Linked DNA regions of Homo sapiens. The protein of the gene in region 1 interacts with the protein of each later gene in a pairwise test. Each region holds a gene or a part of one and is shown on either strand. Other genes may lie near its edges.

Region 1 (3,821 bases):
GGCCGATCAACAGCGTTGGGAGAGGGGCAGCACAGGTTCCTGGTTGCTATTGTCAACTGTGGTTTCAGGCCCAATTTGGGACTTCAGCCAGCTTTGGCTTCTTTGGGTTCTTGGCCCAGTTTATATATAATTATTGGAATGTTAGGTAGATAAGTGTCTAAGAGCTAAGAATTTTTAAAGGCTGCACTACCATGGAGTGGAGCCGGGAGGCTGGGACAGAGTCAGCTATGACCGCTCAATTGCTGCTGTCTCATCTGGGCTCCTGTAACCAACTCTGGTCTGTTTGAGCCAGGCATCGTGGTTCTATCGCCAAAAGCCTACTGTGTTATAATCGTACACTCCTTTCTTTCACACATGCTCAGCCTGATCTTCGCTCTCCACTTTTCCCAGTTTTACTGGCTTTTTCTAACAAGTCTTGTTGAACTTGGGTTACCAGCAGACAAAAGGAAACAGAGGCAGGGCTCCTCTCTCCCAGCCGCCACCAAAATTGCCACCCCGTGTCATCTGTTTCAGTAGTGCCCACTCTAGAAGGAGCTATCCTGAACTTCCTGACGCCCTCACCATGCCACTGCCTGCTGTTTCTGGGCAGCAGAGGCTTCCTAGAGAAAGTCAGACTCAGGAGCTCTGCCTTCACCTGGTTATCACCACTGCCCACCTTCTGTTGACTTCCCATCAAGGCTGTTTGAATCTTTTCCAGGGTCAGGTAAAAGCTGTGCATCTCCCCAGTGCTCAGGGTTTGTGACAGTTGGGAGAAAGGCAGGGGACACGAAGTCACTGCTCTCCAAACCTGCCCTGTCCTTTTCCTACTGTCCGTCTGGTTTCTGCTCCACTCAGCCTCTGTCCCACTTCTCAAGTCCCTCATGAAATGAAGCCTCCTGCTGTGCTTAGTGCTGTGCTGTGCTCAGTGCTGGGATGGGTTCATGTTCCTGCAGAAATTGTGGACAGGTAGTCAGGTGAGGAGCAGGGAGCACTGGGGATGCATGCACACCTGGCAGGAGAGGGTATGCCAGGCATGGCTTCCGGGAGAAGTAAAATCTCAGCTGAGACAGGCAAACTGCATAGGTCGGGTGAAAGGGGCAGGGAGGGAATGAGCGTTCCACACAGAGGCAGGGGGTGTAGAAGCACAAAGGAGGGGGTCGTGGTGAGGAGGTGGAGGGCTGAGCCGGGGCCGGGTCATACGGGGCCTTGGCAGCAGTGCAAAGGAGCTTGGACCACATTCTTTGTTTCCACTCGGAAGTGAAATACTGGACTGAATAGTCTTTGAGACTGATGTAGGCCACACTGATTATTTTACTTGAGATTTTTGTGACCATGAGAATATCATCTGCCAAATCCCTGTAGTAGTGGGCTAACAAGATAGTATTCTGGTCATGTGAAAACCCCAGCCCATTTCCCAAAGGACTTACTTTGTCTCTGATAAGAGGTTTGGTGACAAGTTTGAAGGCTCCAATGTATACAAGTGAGAATAGAAAAGATATTTTCAGCCCTAGAGGTGTTTATCAACTGGCTAACATGACACCACTGAGAGCATTAAACAGCATAAAAATAATGACAAAGCTGTGATCAGCAGCTGCAGATGGTTTTTGTACACATTGACCATCTAGGGTGAGTAAAGGGGAGTTCAGGGAAGGCCCACGGGGCAGAAGGTGAGGCCAGGGATTGGCCTAGAGGGGAAGCAAAGGCAGACCCAATACCAAGGAGCTAATCTTTTGCTAAGCAACGTGGTCTGGAACTGGCGGCCTGAAGTGCTTGATTACCAGGGATACTGTTGCAGATGACTGGGGAAAGTCAGATCCTCCAAGCCGAGCCACCTGCAATTCAAGGTAGAATCTGGCAGAATACATTCATTCCTGTGTGAAAAATTCGAATCAGAGTTTTCTCTAACTGCTTACCAGATAAACTACTACTTGGCTTTCTTTACTTCTTGCCCTTTTTCTTGCTTCTTACTTCCCTCCTTTCCTCCTCTCTCCTTGTTTCCTTCCTTCCTTCATTTCCTTGTTCCTTCCTTCTTTCCTTGCTTGCTTTCTTCCATCCTTCCTTCCCTCCTTCCTTTCCTTTCTTCCTTCCTTCTCCTTAACTTTATAATTTGGTAATGTCTTCCTTAAAAACCTGACTTTGGAACGATACTACACTTTCTATTCAGCAACGAGTAGTAGTTTTGCCTCCCTATGTTATTGTTGTGTTTAAATCCTGGATTCTTTCCTGCTGTCATACTTTGTCATGAGAGTGAATCTTGCCGGGCGTGGTGGCTCATGCCTGTAATTTCAGCACTTTGGGAGGCTGAGGTGAGTGGATCACCTGAGGCCAGGAATTTGAGACCAGCCTGATGAAACCCCATCTCTACTAAAAATACAAAAACTAGCATGGTGAAACCCCGTCTGTACTAAAAATACAAAAATTCGCCAGGCATGGTGGTGCGTGCCTGTAATCCCAGCTACTCGGGAGGCTGAGGAAGGAGAATCACTTGAACCTAGGAGGCGGGAGGTTGCAGTGAGCTGAGATCATGCTACTGCACTCCAGCCTGGGGGAGACAGTGAGACTGTCTCAAAAAAAAAAAAAAAAGAGTGAATCTTTGTGATTGTCCTGGAGGGAATGTGCAGAGAGAACTTGGAGAGCCAGTTCCATGGGCTGTTGATTAACCTGACAGAAACGACATCCTGTTCTTGATACCTTAATAATTTATTTGTATTAGCATGTCACTTTCTCCAACTCTATTTTCATAGTTGGTTCAGGCTGCCATAATAAAATTCCATAGACTGGGTGGCTTAAACGAGAGACATTTATTTCCCACAGTTTAGGGGCAAGGAAAGCCCTGGCAGGTTTCATGTCTGATGAGGGGCCATTTCCTGGTTCATAGATGGCACCATATAGCTGTGTCCTCACGTGGTGGAAGGGGCAAGGCAGCTCTCTGGGGTCTCTTTTACAAGGGCACTAATCCCATTCGTGAGGGCTCCACCGTCCTGATCTAATCACCTGCCAAGGCCCTGCCTCCTAATACTATTGCCTCGGGGTTCAGGATTGCAACATTTGAACTTTGGGGTAGGGGGCGGGGAATGGGACACAAACATTCAGACCATAGCATCTGTTTTCTGATTTGAGAAACTGGCATAATAACATCTATGTATCTACATGGATGAATTTAGCAGGGTCTTGAAAAGATTCTTCACACATTAGAAAATGTTAAGACATGGCCAGGCGCGGTGGCTCACGCCTGTAATCCCAGCACTTTGGGAGGCCAAGGCGGGCGGATCACGAGGTCAGGAGATCGAGACCATCCTGGCTAACATGGTGAAACCCCGTCTCTACTAAAAATACAAAAAATTAGCCGGGCATGGTGGTGGGTGCCTGTAGTCCCAGCTACTCGGGAGGCTGAGGCAGGAGAATGGTGTGAACCCAGGAGGTGGAGCTTGCAGTGAGCCAAGATAGCGCCACTGCACTCCGGCCTGGGTGAAAGAGCGAGACTCCGTCTCAAGAAAAAAAAAGAAAATGTTAAGACATGTTCCTTTTTTTTTTTTTAAGATGACCATTGTTGGAGATTTGGCAGAGGGTGGTCAGTTATTTTAGAAAGGGCTCAAATGGTGATTGCCATTACCCACTGTCTTTAAAAGCTGAATGATCAAAATAGTATACATGAAAAGATTTCAGGAATTCATAAGTTTTCCGGTTTTCCTTGATGGCACTTTCCAGTCACCTACCCTACATATGAAAATGGGAGCCTATTTCTGTTTTCAGATTGCAGAGGGAATGGCATACATCGAGCGGAAGAACTACATTCACCGGGACCTGCGAGCAGCTAATGTTCTGGTCTCCGAGTCACTCAT
Region 2 (3,821 bases), on another chromosome or scaffold:
AAATGTGAACTATGTATCTGTCAAACAGTAACAAAGCACAGTTTAACCTAGTAAGTGGTGTCAACTCCTTCTGTGCCTCTATAATCCATTTATCTAAATCCTACTTAGTTGGAGGATTATAGTTCTCATATAGCTAGATATGAGTTCTTCCCATTAGGTAAATGGTTCACACATACAGTAAACAAGGCTATAAAAAATCATATCTAATTTCACAAAAGAAAAAAATTATTTGACATATTTTCCTGGTAAGAAAAAGATATAAAGGAAGGAAATCGGGATCATGCCAAACAAGTAATTAAAAACTGTCTAAAGACAGATCTTTTTTTGGAGTCCCTTAAAAGAGAGGAACTGGCTAAAAATTTCGAATGAAACCGCCAATAGAAAAAAGAACCACAAGAAACAAATCTAAAATTTCACTGGAAACAGGAGGCTGCAAAGTAAAAGGGAAAAATTTAAGGAAACACAAGCCACATCTTCAGACATCAACATGAAAAAGGAATGCTAAAATGGTAATTTTTTTAAAGTGGAAGTGTCAGAGGCTTTTAAACCAGAGCAACTCCGTCTTGAATAGGGGCTGAGTAAAATAAGGCTTTGACCTATGGGGGCTGCATTCCCAGGAGGTTAGGCATTCTTAGTCACATGATGAGATAGGAGGTTGGCACAAGGTACAGATCACAAAGACCTTGCTGATAAAAGGATGCAGGAAAGCAACTGGCCAAAACCCACCAAAATCAAGATGGTGATGAAAATGACCTTTGGTTTTCCTCACTGCTCATTATATGCTAATTATAACGCATTAGCATGCTAAAAGACACTCCTACCAGTGCCATGATAGTTTACAAATGCCATGGCAACATCAGGAAGTTACCCTATATGGCTTAAAAAGGGGGAGAAACCCTCAGTTCTGAGAATTGCCAACCCCAGTTCAGGAAAACTCATGAATAATCCACTGCCTGTTTAGCATATAATCAAGAAGTAACAATAAGTGTAAGCAGCTGAGCAGCCTATGCTCTGCTTTGCCTATGGAGTAGTGATTCTTTTGTTTCTTTACTTTCTTAATAAACTTGCTTTCACTTCCCTCTACGGATTGGCCTCAAATTCTTTCTTGCATGAGATCCAAGAACCCTCTCCTGGGGTCTGGATCAAGACCCCCTTCCAGTAACAGAAATGACAGAAAGGGCTAAATGGATCACAAAGTAGTTAAAATGCAAATTACAAACAATGTTACTACCATTAGGTCTCATCAAATAAGAATAAAAATGAACTCAGGAATTCAAGATTGCAGTAAGCTATGATGGCACCACTGCACTCCAGCTTGGGTGACAGAGTGAGGCCCCCGCATCTCTAAAAAGAAAAAAAAAAAAAGGAATGTAACTAATATCTAAATAACTCTAACTAAAATGTTTTCATTGAATATATTAGTGTTTGAAGTAAATATTAACACGCTTTGGGTTTTGGGGAAACTCTTGCTAATCTTTGACCTAACCATTGTTATATGCCAGTCAGGACTAGAAATGGAGGAAACACTGACATTAGTATTCATTGATTCTTAAAGAAATTAGAAATGAGAAGCCTAATTGAATCAAAGTCACAAGGATCTGAAACCTCCCTCCCCTGGTCTGGTGAAAAAGAGGATATTTTGTGGAAGGTAGTATCTCGATCTAAATTCACAATATCATACAAAACTATATTTCTATGATCTGTGATAATCGTAACTGAACTTGGACTCTAAATTTTCTGACCTACTTCACTACTGACCCTTAGCAGAAGAAAGATGCTTGTTTATAGCTGTTTACAGTTTACACTTCACTGATGCCATTACTACATCTGAACATACTGTAAATTAGTGATGGAATGCAAACTAGCTACTAAATTAATTAATTTGTTAATCTCATTAGCCAAAAGGTAAGAACAACTTCCAGCATTATGTAAGTATTTCAGACTTATCTGAAATATGACAATCTTACCTGTATGTTTTTAGAATGGGGGAAAAAACTCTAAAAACTATAAATAATGTCAAATAAAACATAAATTTCCAAACAACACTGATAACAATTCCATAGGAAAGCTTACATTCAGTGATACTTTTGCCTTTTTCTTCTTAAAGTGTCCTTTCTGGAAATGAACATTATCTATTTTGATACAACCTTTACTTTATAATATTCAACTCCTAGCCTGTTTTCCCCAGAATAAAACAAAACTCAGAAAGCTTACAATCTTTAAATTTCATTATTTGGTGGCTTTATTTGTTCAAATAACAATCTTAAAATTATGTGAACTACAACTGAGAGATTTATTAATTAACAATGAAGTTATAAAATGTATCCTATTATTTCTAAATTAATGTAGTGACAATAGTGGTTGAGAACATGGACTCTAACCATATTCTCTAGGTTAAAATCCCAAATTTGAGCTGGGTACAGCGGTGTGCACCTGTAATCCCAGCTACCTGGGAGACTGAGACAGGAAGATCACTTGAGCCCAGGAGTTTGAGGCTGCAGGGTGTGATGACTACACCTGTGAACAGTCACAGCTCTCCAGCCTAGGCACCGAGACAAGACCCTGTTTCTAAAAACAAAGGAAAAACAAATTCCTAGATCTGCCATTTTCCAACTCTGTGACCTTGAACAAGTCACTTAACCTCTCTGTTCTCAGTTTTCCTAAAAGTCAAATTAATGGTGCTAATAATAGTACTTACAGAGTTGTTGTGAGCTAAACAAGTTAACATAGCTAACGTACTTAGACAAAGTGCTTAGAACGGTGCCCAGTATATAGTAAATTCTATGTACACGTTTGCTGTTATTCCTTAAATCTGTAAAGGGAGCTCAGAAAGGTGCTGTTCGTATTTAATTTTATCTAATTTTATTTTAAAATATTTAAGAAAAATAATCTATTTTCTGCCATTGAAACTCTCACAACCCTATGTTCTTAACTTTTCCAGAAATTCTACAACAGTAGGCTGGATAATAAATATTCCCTAAGGTGAAAGGCCACACAGATTAAAGTTATTTTACTCTCTTTTCTAATTCAATACAACACAATTGTTTTAGCTCTGAGGGTATTCTGGTATTTGGAGCATTTGTCAAATAATGAAATGAATCATAAATTAGTCAGATTATAATTGTTATAATTCTCAGTTATTATTAGTTTGTCTTCAGTTTACTCTGTACTCAAAAGAGGGGGAAGGGATGGCCAAAAATTCTTTTGCAATAGTAGTTGATATAATTGAACACCAACATTACCTTTATCACTTCCATAATAATAGAATACCGTTTTACTGAGAGCACACCACCGTTTCTGCCATTCAAATCCCAGAAAGCTGTGATCTGCAATAAAGAGGGGAAAATGTAAGGCCATTTCCTTACTGTAAAAGAAAAAGTTAATTAATATGATTTCTAAGATTCCTCTGAGCTCTAACATTGTGTGACTAATTTGTATCTTCTTTTCCAAGAGACAAAAAACCAAACAACAACAAACCAACACAGCTAAAGGGAATAAAGTAAAGTAGCTATGGGGCTGCCATACTTATGGGATCAACAGCATGGCTAACAAAGTTTTCTGACAGGGACAGTCAAAAAGGTATCTGACTATACAGTCTTGAGATAATTGATCCATCTGGGTCTCATTTTCTCATCTGTTATAAAAAGAAGGGGAGGAGCTAACCTAGATTATTTCTGTTATCTCTTTCAGTTTTAAAATTCAGCTAAGAAAGCTAAGAAAAGCAAAATGAAATATAAATAGAAAGGCCTAAAGGGACTACAAGAGAGATAAGCAGAATGGTAATGAAAAGACTGTCTGCTTTTCATTTCTCATATTATAAA

The links.
Region 2: the proteins of LYN (region 1) and SKAP2 interact in a protein complementation assay, tested with the Homo sapiens proteins (one study listed by BioGRID).

The regions. Positions count from the first base shown.
Region 1 is NC_000008.11:55,994,614-55,998,434, forward strand, and holds part of LYN (tyrosine-protein kinase Lyn), read left to right. Parts: intron 1-3,732; coding exon 3,733-3,821. UniProt on the Homo sapiens protein: Non-receptor tyrosine-protein kinase that transmits signals from cell surface receptors and plays an important role in the regulation of innate and adaptive immune responses, hematopoiesis, responses to growth factors and cytokines, integrin signaling, but also responses to DNA damage and genotoxic agents.
Region 2 is NC_000007.14:26,735,553-26,739,373, forward strand, and holds part of SKAP2 (src kinase-associated phosphoprotein 2), read right to left. Parts: intron 3,327-3,821; coding exon 3,243-3,326; intron 1-3,242. UniProt on the Homo sapiens protein: May be involved in B-cell and macrophage adhesion processes. In B-cells, may act by coupling the B-cell receptor (BCR) to integrin activation. May play a role in src signaling pathway.